Linked DNA regions of Homo sapiens. The protein of the gene in region 3 purifies or fractionates together with the protein of the main gene of each other region. This does not show direct contact. Each region holds a gene or a part of one and is shown on either strand. Other genes may lie near its edges.

Region 1 (3,500 bases), on a different chromosome or scaffold from region 3:
AAGTGATCCGCCCACCTCCACCTCCCAAAGTGCTGAGATTACAGGCGTGAGCCACTGCGCACGGCCAGTTTTATTTATTTGTTTTTATTATAAAGTTTTTCTTGTAGAGACAGGGTCTTGCTCTGTTGCTCAGGCTGGTCTTGAACTCCTGGCCTCAAGCGATCCTCAGCCACCCAAAGTGCTGGGGTTCCTACAGGTGTGAGCCACTATGCCTGGACCCAAGTTGCTGGTTTTAATCCCAGCTCCAGGTCACACACAGTGGCCACCCCATAAGTGGAGTGCGCGTTGCCAGGGATGCAACTGTGGATGCCAGGACAGGTTGGCAGCTTCAGTAGTCCTTACGTCTTCCACAGCTTCGGTAGTCTGTACTTCTTCCACACTGTAGAACCATCTGTGGCTCCCAGCTTCTCCCACCCACCCCGTTCTCAAGCATACCTTTCAATGTCCTTTGTGCCCCGGCCCTGCCCCTTTACTCACCTTCCTCTCCACCCTGGGGCTCTCTGAACTTCTCATGCTTCTCTGTCAAACCCAAGCTCCAAGGTTACCCCTTCCCTGGAGGCCAGGAAGGGTGCACCTGTCCGGCCTCCCCACCTAGACAAGAGTCACACAGGCCTGGCACCAGCCCTCTCCCCAGTAGCTACGTGCTGTTCTCTGAGCTTCAGTTCTCTTGATCCTAGAGGGGGTCCGAGTGCTTTCTGGGCAGACTGTGGTCATTCAAACCCTCTGAGTTCCCACCCATCTGCTGGAGGCTCCAGTTCATTCATTTGCTATATCTTTTTTTTTTTTTTTTTTTGGGATGGAGTCTCGCTCTGTTGCCCAGGCTGGAGTGCAATGGCACGATCCCGGTTCACTGCAAGCTCCACCTCCCAGGTTCAAGCGATCCTCCTGCCTCAGCCCCCCTAGTATGTGGGATTACAGGCACGTGCCACTATGCCCAGCTGGTTTTTGTATTTTCAGTAGAGACGGGGTTTCGCCATGTTGGCCAGGCTGGTCTCACACTCCTGACCTCAGGTGATCCACCCACCTCAGCCTCCCAGAGTGCTGGGACTACAGGTGTGAGCCACTGCGCCTGGCCATTGGCTAGATCTTTATTGAGGGTCTACTGTGTGCTAAGCCTATGCCAGACTTGACCTGCCCCATCTCACTGAGGCCCATAATGTGCCCCAGGAAAGGTCCTGCAGCTCCCAGGTCACAGATGGGGAGGCAGAGGCTGCAAGAGGTAAAGAATAGGTAAAAACTGAGGGGATAGCAGCACTCAGAGAGGCTGAGGCAGGAGGATCCCTCGAGCCTAGGAATCGAGACCAGCCCGGCCAACATGGCGAAACCCTGTCTCTACAAAAAAAAAAATACAAAAATTAGGCATGGTGGCACACTCCTGCAGCCCCAGCTACTCTGGAGGCTGAGGCAGGAGGATTACTTGAGCCTGGGCGGTCGAGGCTGCAGTGAGCTATGATCTTGTCACCGCTCTCCAGTCTAGGCAACAAAGCAAGACCCTGTCTCCAAAACAAAACAAAAATCATGGGCTGGGATTCAAACCCAGTTTCTCTGGTGGGTCAGCAAAGAAAATTTCAGATTCCAAAGCTTGAGGGCTGGGGGTGAGGGGAGGCAGCCCTGTCTGGGAGACAGGCAAAGTGGAGACCCAAAAGCACAGGCGTCTCCCTCCAGCCGGCCAGCAAAGGTGCTCTAGGGGACCTCCGGCCCTGCTCCTGCTGAGACCCCAACATGTACCCTCCTTTCTCACCCCGCTTGCCAGGCACCCTGGGTGAATCTGTGCTCCGTGGCAGCCTCTCCCCCTGCATGTTCCCAGGGACAGGAACCAGGGCAGGTGCTTGGTCATGGTTGGGTCTTCAGTGTCTTGCCAGGGCCTGTACACAGAAGGTGTTCTGTGGCTAATGAATGAATGAATGAGTGAGTGATGTTGAAGGCAGGGCCTGGACTGGAAGCTGCTCAGGGCTCGCTCTCTCTGCTGTCGGCACAGGCTAAGGCTAGTGATTTTAGGTTGTTCCCCTCAGCTGGGGGCGACCCCTGGCTCACTGTCTCCCCTCCTGTCCCTTGTTCCTGGCTGCAGCCCCAGAGGCTCCTCTTCTCCTCCCATCCCCGCAGGCCCCAGGTTTTCCCGACAGCTGGGGACAGTGCTGGGGTGTTGGTGGGGACCATGCCATGGTTTTCCTGTCCATACACTGCAGAGCCCTAGGAAGAAAGGCTCTGCTAGGAAACCTCCACACTGCAGACCCAACTGAGAGTTCTGGCGTTAGTACAGTGTACATGTTCCCTTCATTCCCCGAGAGGTTTTTTTCTTTTCATTTTGAGACAGGGTCTTGCTCTTGTCGCCCAGGCTGGAGTACAGTGGCTCAGTCTCGGCTCACTGCAGCCTCCACCTCCCAGGTTCAAGCAGTTCTTTCACCTCAGCCTCCCGAGTAGCTGGGATTACAGGTATCTGCCACCACCACGCCAGGCTCATTTTTGTATTTTTAGTAGAGACGGGGTTTCGCCATGTTGGCCAGGCCGGTCTCGAACTCCTGACCTCAGGTCATCCGCCTGCCTCCACCTCCCAAAGTGCTGGGATTACAGGTGTGAGTCACCACGCCTAGCGGTTTCTTGTTGTTGTTGTTTTGTTTTGTTGTTTTTGAGACAGGGTCTGGTTCTGTTGCTCTGTCCTGAGTGCAGTGGTGTGATTGTAGCTCACTGCAGCCTCAACCTCCTGGGCTCAGACGATCCTCCCACCTCTGCCTCCCAAGTAGCTGGGACCACAGGTGCGCACCAACACACCCAGCTAATTTTCTTTTCTTTTCTTTTCTTTTGAGGCGGAGTCTCACTCTGTCGCCCAGGCTGGAGTGCAGTGGTGCAATCTCGGCTCACTGCAAGCTCTGCCTCCCGGGTTCAAGCGATTCTCCTGCCTCAGCCTCCCGAGTAACTGGGATTACAGGCGCCCGCCACCACGCCCGGCTAATTTTTGTATTTTTAGTGGAGATGGGGTTTCACCATGTTGGTCAGTCTGGTCTCGAACTCCTGACCTCGTGATCCACTGTGCCCGGTCCACACCTGGCTAATTTTTTTTTTTTTTTGAGACGGAGTCTCACTCTGTCGCCCAGGCTAGAGTGCAGTGGCGCGATCTCAGCTCACTGCAACCTCCATCTCCCAGGTTCACGCCATTCTTCTGCCTCAGCCTCCCAAGTAGCTGGGACTACAGGCGCCCACCACCACACCCGGCTAATTTTTTGTATTTTTAGTAGAGACGGGGTTTCACCGTGTTAGCTAGGATGGTCTTGATCTCCTGACCTCGTGATCCACCCATTTTGGCCTCCCAAAGTGCTGGGATTACAGGTGTGAGCCACCGTGCCCGGCCACACCTGGCTAATTTTTAAAAATTTTTTGTAGAGGCCGGATATGGTGGCTCACACCTGTAATCCTAGCACTTTGGGAGGCTGAGATGGGAGGATCACCTGAGCCCAAGAGTTCCAGACCAGCCTGGGCAACATAATAAGACCCTGTCTCTGCAG
Region 2 (3,500 bases), on a different chromosome or scaffold from region 3:
TGTGAATGAGCCAGCATGCCTGGAGCTGCTGTGCCTGGCAGACACCACTCCTCCCACTCCCAGTCCCCTGTGTGTCGCAGCATAACCAGGAACTTTCCAGATGAGGTCAGAGGCCCAGAGAGGGCAAGCAGCCTGCCCAGGGTCACATAGTGAGGCAGGGACAGAGCTGGAGTGGAGCCTCCTTGTCCTGCTCTGTAAGGCCCCAGGTGGGCCAGGGCCTCAGAGACCAAGGGGCAGGATATTTTCATCCACTCTGCCTGCAGGGAGCCTCCTGGGGGTAAGAGTGAGATTTGAGAGAACAGGAGCCATCCAACAGGCTGGAAAGAGCGGGAAGGGCAGACGGGGGCTGTGTCGTCAGTAGGCTTTTGGGGGAAAGCAGCAGGCTCTAAGGTAAGCCTGGGAGCAGCTTAGCCAGCACCCAGGAGCAACGCCTCCTAAGCCCCCACTGGTGGTGACAAAACTGGTCTGGTCCACAGGCATTGGGTGGGGGGCTCCCAGCCACTGTGGGACAAGTACCCTCAGCACCCAGGACAAGCAGGCTGGGGGCAGCCATGCCACAGTGGCAGTGACCAACACATTCCAGGTAGTGCATGCAGTGGGGAAGGGGTGGGGAGGGACAGAGCCTTGCGGCCAAGAGATCTGGAACCTGCTCAGGGTAAGGCGTCAGGTCCCCCAACACCTGGGCCCCCTGACCACCCTCCTTCCCTTCCTCATCCCATCTCTGTGCACTGGGTGCCCACTGGCCCCACCCACAAGGGCACACAGATCTGGCTGGGGAGGAGCAGGGTCTGGAGTCAGGCAGACTCACTGGCTGTGACCCTGAGCAAGGCACTTCCCTGGAAAACAGGATGGCACACAACCACCCTGCCAGAGTTGTGGGATTCAACAAGATAAGGCACTTTTGTTGTTATTCTTAAAGACCAAGTGAGTCAGTGCAAGGAGGCAGGCCAGGGCCCTGAGGAGATGGTGCCAGGTCCTTTAGGGGCACAGGGGGCCTTGGGGGGCTTCAACAAAGGGCCTCCAGGGAGGGACAAGGATGGCGTGACACTTGTTGAGCTTGGGGCCCAGCCTGCTTGCTGGCCCGCAGGCAAACCCTGGAAGGGGAGTATCAGCCCCACCACATAGAGCAGGAGGCTTAGGCCCAGTGCCTGTGCTTGGGGCACTTGGGAAAAGATGCTGACCATGGGCTGACCAAGGCCCAGCAGGGTCCTGCCCCGGGGCTGGGGCCAATCCAGGCCTTACGCTTCCTCTGAGGCCCAGGGAGGATGTGGATGTCGGACCTGTCCTTCACGGATCCTTTGGTGGAAGATGGTGGCAGGTGGGTCAGAGGTAGGTGCTTGCCTAAGCAGACGCTACTTGTTGCCCTGCCTGTCCAGCAACTACCAGAAAAGTCTGTTCCTCTCAGTCTCTAAAATTCACCCCAGACAGGGTCTCTAAGTCCCAACATCATGCCAGGCCATGCCAGCTTTGGGTATACAACGGGGAGCAGGCCTGGGCCCTGGCCTTGCAAAGGGGCAGAGGCAGTGGCCAGGCCTCTGAATTTTCAGGCCCCAGGCTCATGACACCCCCTCATGGTTGGGAGGCCCCAATGCAGTTCCCCAACCTCTTTAACCCCCAGTCTTTTCTTCATATCTTTAGCTTCCAGCATGACGATGTGACTCTTTACTCCAGGGCCTCCATGAACAGCCCCAGCCCCTTTACCTCTCTTCTTGGTCCACTCTGCTCCAGCAACACCATCCTCCCTCTGTGGCCCAATCCTGTCAAGCATGCCCTCACCAGGGCCTCTGCACTTGCTGTCCCCTGCACCCGGGGCCCCCACTCTTCTCCTGGATAGTTCCTCCTAATCATTTAGATTTCTGTTCAAAGGTCACCTCCTCCAGGAAGCCCTCCTCACTTCCTGAGTGGCCACACAGTTCACTCAATCCATTCCCATTGGGCTCTCTATCTTCTTCATTTCTCTGTGTCCTTCTCCCCTGCAGTATCCCCTGAGAGCAGCACCCTCTCAGTGGTTCCCAGCACTGAGCTGGACATACAGCAGGTGCACCATGAACACTAGCTGAAGGCAGGGAAGTGAAGGCCCAGGCCTGGTTATGCGGCCTTGGCTGCATATCCCAGTCTTTCTGAGTTATAACCAGGACCTGCCCAGTGGCTTCCTGGGGCTGTAAAGGGTGGATAGATGCTACAGCATTCTTGGAAAATAGCCCAGTGCTGTGTGGGTCATTCATAATAACCATTTTTAATAGTGATCACTGCATGGCAAGAAAGGCTACCGGTCATCACACGTGCTTGAGTGAAGACTGGGCCTCCGGTTCCCTCCCTGCATCTCTCTCGGTGGGCTGGGGCTGCTCTTCCCTGGCATCCAGCCCAGGCCCACTGTCCAGCAGATGCTGATAACTGTGCCTGCAGAACTGACCCAGCCAAGGTGATAATGGTGAAGGCTCAATGCACAAGTTTCTTGGAGGTGTGTGTGTGTGTGGAATGTTCCAGGCCCAGTCCCACCAGTGTCCCTTCTTCTGTCTAGGGGAGACCCACCAGGGCTTCGCTTCCTTCATGAAGGCCCCACTGCAAGCAGCAGGTCAGGGCATCCCACCAGAGGGAGACCACTGCCTCCTGCGGGGGCCGGCAGGTCATCATGTCCCCCAAACAGAAGGAAGAGAGGGGTCGGGACAGTTCCAGGCAGTGAATGAATGATTGAACAGGCATGGGTAGGCGAGTGCTCCACTGGCCTGGCCAAGCAGCCCACATCTCACACACCACAAACTCCTCACAGCCTCACTTCCTGTGTTCAAGTGACAGGATGTGACATGCCCATGAGGACAGAGGGGCCCCTTGCAGAGATGATGAAAAGGATGCTGTAGTTACAGAATTGAGGGCCATCCTTCATTCAGACACCATTCATGAAGCTGCCAGTACAGCAATGACCTCAGGTGTTAGCAAGTTTGATTCAGGGTCTGATTCTTGGAAGCCTCCTGATGTTCCCCCATTGGGTTAAGAAATCTTCTCCTGCTTTTGTTGTCATCCTTTATCCCATCCAGTGTGCCACCTTCACGATGGACTGAGCCCTGACCGGGACAGAGTCTCGATTCCATAAAGCTCCCTTGGGTGCACACCAGGGGCCCAGAGAGTGGAAGTGGCGAAAATGGAGGCTAGGGAGTGAGGACAGTGGGGTGGGGGTGGGGGCCCGCCGGCAGGGCTCCACTAGGCTGAGGATAGCCTGGCTGTGCCATGCACAGGGCCGCTGGAGCAAGTCTGTCCCGATTTGACATGTGGCATGCTGGGGAAGGGACACCACTGCCAAATGTACGGCAGGAAACAGCTGTGTGACCCCAGTCAAGTTCCTTCCCCTCTCTGAGCCTCAGTTTCCTCTTCTGTAAAACGGGATCGACAGTATCACATTTTACAGCAGTTGGTGAGACCCCATGAGGCAACTAAGCATGAGAACGCTTTGCAATCAAGTTGGGCAGCTCTGATAGTGGCTACAGTGCAACTGTTGGGAAAGT
Region 3 (3,500 bases):
CAAGTTTGACCCCAAAGTCCATGATTCTCACCACCTTCACTATTCCACTGTGAATCTAAGTTACCCTCATCTCTCATCTAAATTATTGCAAATTTGCCAGCCCCCCACTCAGAGTTATTCTCTGAAAGGCAGTCAAAAGGACCATTTTAGAATATAAATCAGACTTTTATTTTTCTCAACTCAAAATCTTTCAGTGACTTCCTCTCCCATGCAGAGTATAACACCAAGAACATTCCCACAGCTTACAAGGCGACATATATGGTCTGCAAACAACCCACATATATACCTCTTGGATTTATCTTCCCCTTGCTCACTCCACTTCAGCCACTGAGGCTTCCTTGCTCTCCCTCAAACATGCTTAGCCCTCTCCTACCTCAGGACCCTTGCACCTGCTTTTCCTTAGGCCTGGAATGCTCTCCCCACCTCCCCATCAGGTATTTGCATGGCTTGTTCCTCCACATCCTTATTTTTTCTTTTGGAGACAGAGTCTCGCTCTGTCACCCAGGGTGAAGTGCAGTGGCACAATCTCGGCTCACTGCAACCTCTGCCTCCCGGGTTCAAGCCATTCTCCTGCCTCAGCCTCCCAAGTAGCTGGGACTACAGGCGCACGCCACAACACCCAGCTAATTTTTTGTATTTTATTAGAGACAGGGTTTCACCGTGTTGCCCAGGCTGTCTGTCCTTGAACTCCTGAACTCAAGCAATCCGCCCGCCTCAGCCTCCCAAAGTGCTAGGATTACAGGGGTGAGCCACTGCACCCAGCCCCCCACATCCTTATTTTTTCTAATCAACTTAAAGTAGCACACATAATCTGGCATTCTCTTTTTTTTTTTTTTTGCCCTGCTTTTTCTCCATAGCACCTAACATATCAGAGTATATTTATTTGGTTGTTGTTTTGTTTGTTTCCTGTCTCCCACTAGAAAGTATCTTTCATGAAGGCCTTTGGTTCATTGCTCTACCTCCAGCAAATAGAACAGTACCTGACACTTCGGAGGTGTTAAGTAAATATTTGTTAAATAAACAAATGAGTGAACTTGACACTTACTCTGTGTGACTTTATGAAAATATATTAACACTATTAGCTTTAGCTTAGTCACCTTTTAAATGTGAGTAATGCCAGTGCCCACCTCAGAGTCCATTATAAAAATAAAATGAAATAGTCTGTATAAAACCTATTTAGAGCTCAACACAGGACAGTTACTGTAACATTATTCTTATTCTATTCCTCATCTTAATCATTTGTAGTTCCCTAAAAAACTTTTGGAAAATTCATGACATTCTGGGCTTTACATATAATTTTTTAAAAAAGAATTAGTTAATCTTCCATTAGCATCCTGATAACCAAGAGAAAATTCCTATTGAGATCACAGGATTGCTGAACCCATCAAATCTTCATTTGAAAGTTCTCTGGTTTGTCCATCTGGAATCTGCCCTGACTGAAGGCACTACCCTTAAATTCTCTAGTAGAACTTTTCTTCTAACTAAGCCTCACACTGCAGGACTTCAGACAAGTCCCTGACATTTTACCCAGGTAAGACGTAGAACTTAAGCTGTGAATTCAGAAAAACATCTGTTACTTTGCTTTCTGTGGCCTAATTAGTCAGTTGTTGTATACTTCAAACTCTTCTTGTTGTTAATTAAATTTTTAGAGCAAGGGGGAAACCTAAGTATAGTATTATTTGATTTATTTTCAGGTAAAATGCATTTTGGCCTCCAAATTAATTACTAGCTATAAAACTATGCAAAATTCACTCTCTTCCATATTTCTGTAGCACTCATTATTCTTCTACCTTGTCATTTACCACAGCATATTAAAATTACCCCTTTATTTGCTTGTCTCATCTGCTAGATTCTAAGCTTCTTGAGGATACGTCCCATGTCTTAGTCATATCAATACTGGTAGCAACTGGTCCCTACCAGCCTGTTTGAGATTATGAATGTTGTTAAGAAAAACCGTGCAGTGTGATATCATAAGAGTAGATGCTGGAACCAAAGTATCTAAGGTTGAATCCTGGCACTGGCACTGTGGGAGCTCAGGTAAGCTACTTAACTGTGCCTCAGTTTCCTCCTCTGTCAAATAGGGACAATAATAATATATACCTCGTATGATTGTTGTAAGAATTAAATGAAGACATACAAAATGCTTATAACAGTGTGCTTATTTATTATACATAATAAATATAATTTTAGTACTTAATAAACGTTAGCTTTCATTAAACTGGAAAATCGGGTGGCCCTTTCATGGCTACAAGCTAATTTCAAAGCAGGCTGAGTCATCTTTAGATCAGTCATTCTGTTTAAAAGATGGCAAATGTATGCCTGTCTAACACTATTCACCTTTCTGGCAGACTTACCTCAGTCCCTCAGGAAGCCACCAGTGCACTGGTGTTCACACAAGGCAAAACAAATTATTTGCTACTCTTTTTCTCATTCTAGCTCTCACACCCAATTTCAAGCAAACCTAGACTAGGATGAGATGAGGAGACAGCTAGGATTAGGTATGTAATGGAAGGTCAAAGAGGATCAGAGGTAGTTAGCCCAGGACTCAAGCCTCAAGCAAGCTTGAGTTACTTGGAGATTTCAGACAAGGCTGCCATTTGAATCTTCCTCAACCTGCTGACCACTGGGCAGAGCCTCACCTTATGGAACTGTGGAGGGTATATTCGGGCAGCCCCATGGTTCAACAGGAGCTGGTAGCAGATCTCAGGCTGGGCAGCAGGGCGCACGGAGGTGACCTTCAGCACGTACTGGATGGCAGCACAGCCGTTGATATCCATGAGATTGGCTTCGGCGCCAGCTTCCAGCATCATGTGCATGAGCACGTGGTCACAGTTCCAGGCTGCCTTGTGGAGGGGAGATTTAAAGTCGTCATCTCGGGCATTGACTTCGGCTTTGTAGTCAAGCAGCATGCGGCAGACCAGGTGGTGCTCCGTGCTGTACTCCTGCTCCTTAAAGCGGAGGGCCCAGTAGGCGGCGATGGCCAGGGGGGTCTCCATGTGGGCATTCACGCTGTCCACTATGGCCCCGTGTTCCACGTAGAAGGCCACCAGCTCCGAAAGGCCGAAGTGGGCAGCCGTGTGCAAGGGCGTCTCCTCATCTTGGTTGTTGGTCTTCATGTTCACATTCGCCCCTATAAAGGGAAATTGAGGAAGACAATTATTTAAACATGTTTTGTCATTATTCCTAAGGTTCATTAAACAAGACTTTTCTCACTGCTTCTCTTTTAACTTCTGACTGCCGTATATTATCCCCAACCCTCAACCCCTTTGCCCCCAGGCTCTCTTCCTGGGCCTCGTGGAAGCCATTCCCTTGAAGCAACAGTGCCATCTCCTGGACAACCAGCAAAGGTACCCAGGGGAGGAGAAGGAAGGATTTGTGCCAGAATGCTGGAGCGTTGCTGAATTTCACTTCTTACTCCCAGGTGGATTTGGAAATACCAAGAGATTTCTACAACTAAATCTTCTTAATCAACATAACAATGATATTTGCTAATATCATTA
Region 4 (3,500 bases), on a different chromosome or scaffold from region 3:
GCTGGGGTGGGCACAACACCTGAAATCAGGAGTTCAAGACCAGCCTGGCCAACATGGCGAAACCCTGTCTCTACTAAAGATACAAAAATTAGCCAGGTGTGGTGGCAGGCGACTGTAATACTAGCTACTAGGGAGGCTGAGGCAGGAGAATCCCTTGAACCCAGGAGGCTGAGGTTGCAGTGAGCTGAGATCGTGTCAGCGCACTCCAGCCTGGGCGACAGGGCAAGACTCTGTCTCCAAAAAAATAAAATAAAATAAAATAAATCATCGTGTTAAGTAAAGGATGAAGGCTGACAAGACACTTTATAACATTATCTTGATTAATCTTAGCTCACTGGAAATAAGAAATCCAGATACGATGTGCCTCCTGGTATGACGAAAAATATGAGAACAAAGCACTGGTATTCTTAACTAAGACAGGAACTTGAATATATTCATTTACAAGTGTTATTTACCAGTTTACAGAAAATATCTGAATTATGGAAGAAGTTAAAGATAATGACATTTATGGGCAAAATGTCATGTCTGAGATTTGATTTTAATACTCTAAGAAGAAAAATGACAATAAAACAAGATTGGATACATGTGGCTGAATGAATTGCACAAGGGGTTCATTACATTATGCTAATTAAGTGTATGTTTCGAAGCTTCCATTAAAAAAAAGCATAATACTTACCAATAAGATCACTTCGATCTAACAACAACTCTAGATCTTTATCACTAATGACCTTCTCTCTTGATCCTTTTATTTCCCTATAGAAAACAAAATATTCAAGTCTATGTGAATAATTCAAAGCTACAAATTAAATCTTTCTAAAATTAAAAACTCACCTTTCATAATCTCTAGATTTTAATAATTCCATTAATTCCTTAGGATCTAAGAAATTCTTAGACAGATTTAATCCAGACTGACCACCTTTGAAATGATCTAAAAAAAATGAGAAATTAAAAACATTAAAATTCCTTTTAAAACTACAATACAACATATTACAAACCAATCACAATGGCTTGCATTAAGAAGGACGGCAAAAAAAAGTGTTGATAAAAAATAAAAGCAAATGAAGCTCTCAGGCTTCGCTGGTAGGACTGGAAAATGATATGTCCACTTTGGAAAAGGCTGGTAGTTTCCAGTAGTTAAACACGCACCCTCCCTAAGATCAAGGACCAAAAAATGCATTATGTCCACAAAGACTTGTACAGGACCAACTTATTCATAATAACCAGAATCTAGAAATAATTTAAATGTCGACCAACAGGAGAATGGAAAAAACAAACTATTCACCAATTAAAAGAAAAAAATTCTACTAAAAACAACACAGATGACTCTGTGTTGAAAAAATATATTCAACAAAATAGCTAAACAGAAAAAAGACTCATCAGTGTGACAAAAATCAGAATACTGGATGCTTCCTAGTGATGGTAAGGGGAGCATAGGAATTACTGGAAAGGGTGAACAAAGAAAATTTCTTGGATGATGAAAATGCTACCTTGATCTCGATGATAGTTACATAGGAGTACATAAATCTGGTCAAACTTCATTAACCTGTACATTTAAGATCTGTGCATTTTGCTGTATGTATGTAATAACTCAACTGAAAAATGTCAGCATTTAAAAAAATCCCTTCAAAATTTTCTACAAAATTAATCTACTAAAAAATCGAAAATAGGGCTGAGCACAGTGGCTCACACCTATAAGCCCAACACTTGAAGAGGCTAAGGCAGGAGGATCACTTGAGTCCAGGTGTTCGAGAACAACCTGGGTAAAAAAGTTAAATGGTCTCTTAAAAAAAAATTATGCTTTTTCCCCAATGCAAGTTCCAATTACAATCTAAATGTTTCACCAAATTAATTTTGTCTAAACCTTAATACACTCTTACCTCAAAACCCAGAGAAAGTATTTACAAGTGGAAAAGGAGTATAAAATAAATTATTAGTGATTTCCAACATTACTTTTCACATTAACATTATCATGTTCCCATTTCTCTAGGGCTTGATGATTTACATAAATGATTTTCAACATTTCTTCAGGTAGCTATCAAGCCATTTATTCAAAGAAAATTTTATGGTGAATGGATAGAAGTATAACTTCTCTAAGGAATCTCAGGAACAAAACTTTTTCACCTATGTCAGTTCCCCACCTCCTCAGAATTTTTTCTAGATTAAAAAGCATTGTTGAGACCCATCTGGTTATGATAAGGAAATGAAAAAGGAAAAAAAAGTGTCCAAAACTATAAAAAGGGCATTCTGCAGTGAAATATTCTGTGAAACAGTGGGTTCAATAAATAAATAGATTTTTTATAACACTTAAATACACTTAATATTTTAATACATGGAACTTGCAAAATATTTATCTTAAAACTTTTAGCAAGCCAATCTCTTATCAGGAACATGTAGTTATCCTTGACCCCTTTTCTCTGCCCATCTGCTCTTCATCTACATATCTACATACTCGCTAACATTCTTTCTTTTATGTCTATGGTGACCAACTTAGTTTAGGCTCCCAAATTCCCCACTGCTTATTTAAATCCTGTCATATCAGGCTGTTAATATTTTTTTTTTTGAGACAGAGTCTTGTTCTGTTACCCAGGCTAGAGTGCAGTGGCACGATCTCGGCTCACTGCAACCTCCTCCTCCCGGGTTCAAGCGATTCTCCTGCCTCAGCTTCCTGAGTAGCTGGGATTACAGGCGCCCGCCACCGAGCCCAGCTAATTTTTGTATTGTTAGTAGAGACGCGGTTTCACCATCTTGGCCAGCCTGGTCTCGAACTCCTGACCTCGTGATCCACTCACCTTGGCATCCCAAAGTACTAGGATTACAGGTGTGAGACACAGAACTCGGCCCAGGCTGTAATATTTTATAAACAAAATAAAAACAAAATCCACAACACACAATGCACAATTTAAACAATAAAGCACTACATAAGTGTTATTTACTTTTATGGATGATCAACTTTTCCAGTTTCCTTTTAGCAGCTGCTCTTTCCACAATTTTCTGATCGATAGTATTTGCTGTAACAAGGCGATAAACAACAACTGGCTTTGTCTGACCAATTCTATGACATCTATCCTGGGCCTGAAGATCCGACTGGGGGTTCTTAAAGTTAAAAAGAAAAATAATATTTAACGGTATTAGGTTAAAATTAACATAAACTCATGTGGATAAAGTCAACATGAATGATCTAGCCAGGAACTTTTAAATAGTGGTGTCTTAATTTAAACTTCCAGAGTGGCTTCATAGACAAAATTATCATTCCACAGATCCTTGACAATATTAACAAAAAAGTTTAAATACCCTAAAGAAAACATTTCAGGATGGGCACGATGACTCACTCCTATAATCTCAGCATTTTGGGAAGCCAAGGCAGGAGGATCATATGAGGATACAAGACCAGCGTGGGCAAACAGTGAGACGTGGTCTCACTAATTTTTACATTTTTTGTGGGCATGGTAGCACACCCATAGACCCAGCTACTTGAGAGAATGAGGTGGGAGGATCACTTG

What was found. The genes of interacting proteins can lie anywhere in the genome.
Region 1: the proteins of ASB4 (region 3) and MEX3D purify together in Homo sapiens (co-immunoprecipitation; one large-scale study listed by IntAct). This does not show direct contact.
Region 2: the proteins of ASB4 (region 3) and IQSEC1 purify together in Homo sapiens (affinity purification with mass spectrometry; one large-scale study listed by BioGRID and IntAct). This does not show direct contact.
Region 4: the proteins of ASB4 (region 3) and HELLS purify together in Homo sapiens (co-immunoprecipitation; one large-scale study listed by IntAct). This does not show direct contact.

The regions. Positions count from the first base shown.
Region 1 is NC_000019.10:1,561,826-1,565,325, reverse strand, and holds part of MEX3D (RNA-binding protein MEX3D), read left to right. Parts: intron 1-3,500.
Region 2 is NC_000003.12:13,066,930-13,070,429, forward strand, and holds part of IQSEC1 (IQ motif and SEC7 domain-containing protein 1), read right to left. Parts: intron 1-3,500. UniProt on the Homo sapiens protein: Guanine nucleotide exchange factor for ARF1 and ARF6. Guanine nucleotide exchange factor activity is enhanced by lipid binding. Accelerates GTP binding by ARFs of all three classes.
Region 3 is NC_000007.14:95,527,443-95,530,942, reverse strand, and holds part of ASB4 (ankyrin repeat and SOCS box protein 4), read right to left. Parts: intron 3,131-3,500; coding exon 2,640-3,130; coding exon of another isoform or gene 2,568-2,639; exon of another isoform or gene 2,142-2,567; intron 1-2,141.
Region 4 is NC_000010.11:94,594,288-94,597,787, reverse strand, and holds part of HELLS (lymphoid-specific helicase), read right to left. Parts: intron 3,094-3,500; coding exon 2,934-3,093; intron 929-2,933; coding exon 832-928; intron 754-831; coding exon 677-753; intron 1-676. UniProt on the Homo sapiens protein: Plays an essential role in normal development and survival. Involved in regulation of the expansion or survival of lymphoid cells. Required for de novo or maintenance DNA methylation. May control silencing of the imprinted CDKN1C gene through DNA methylation.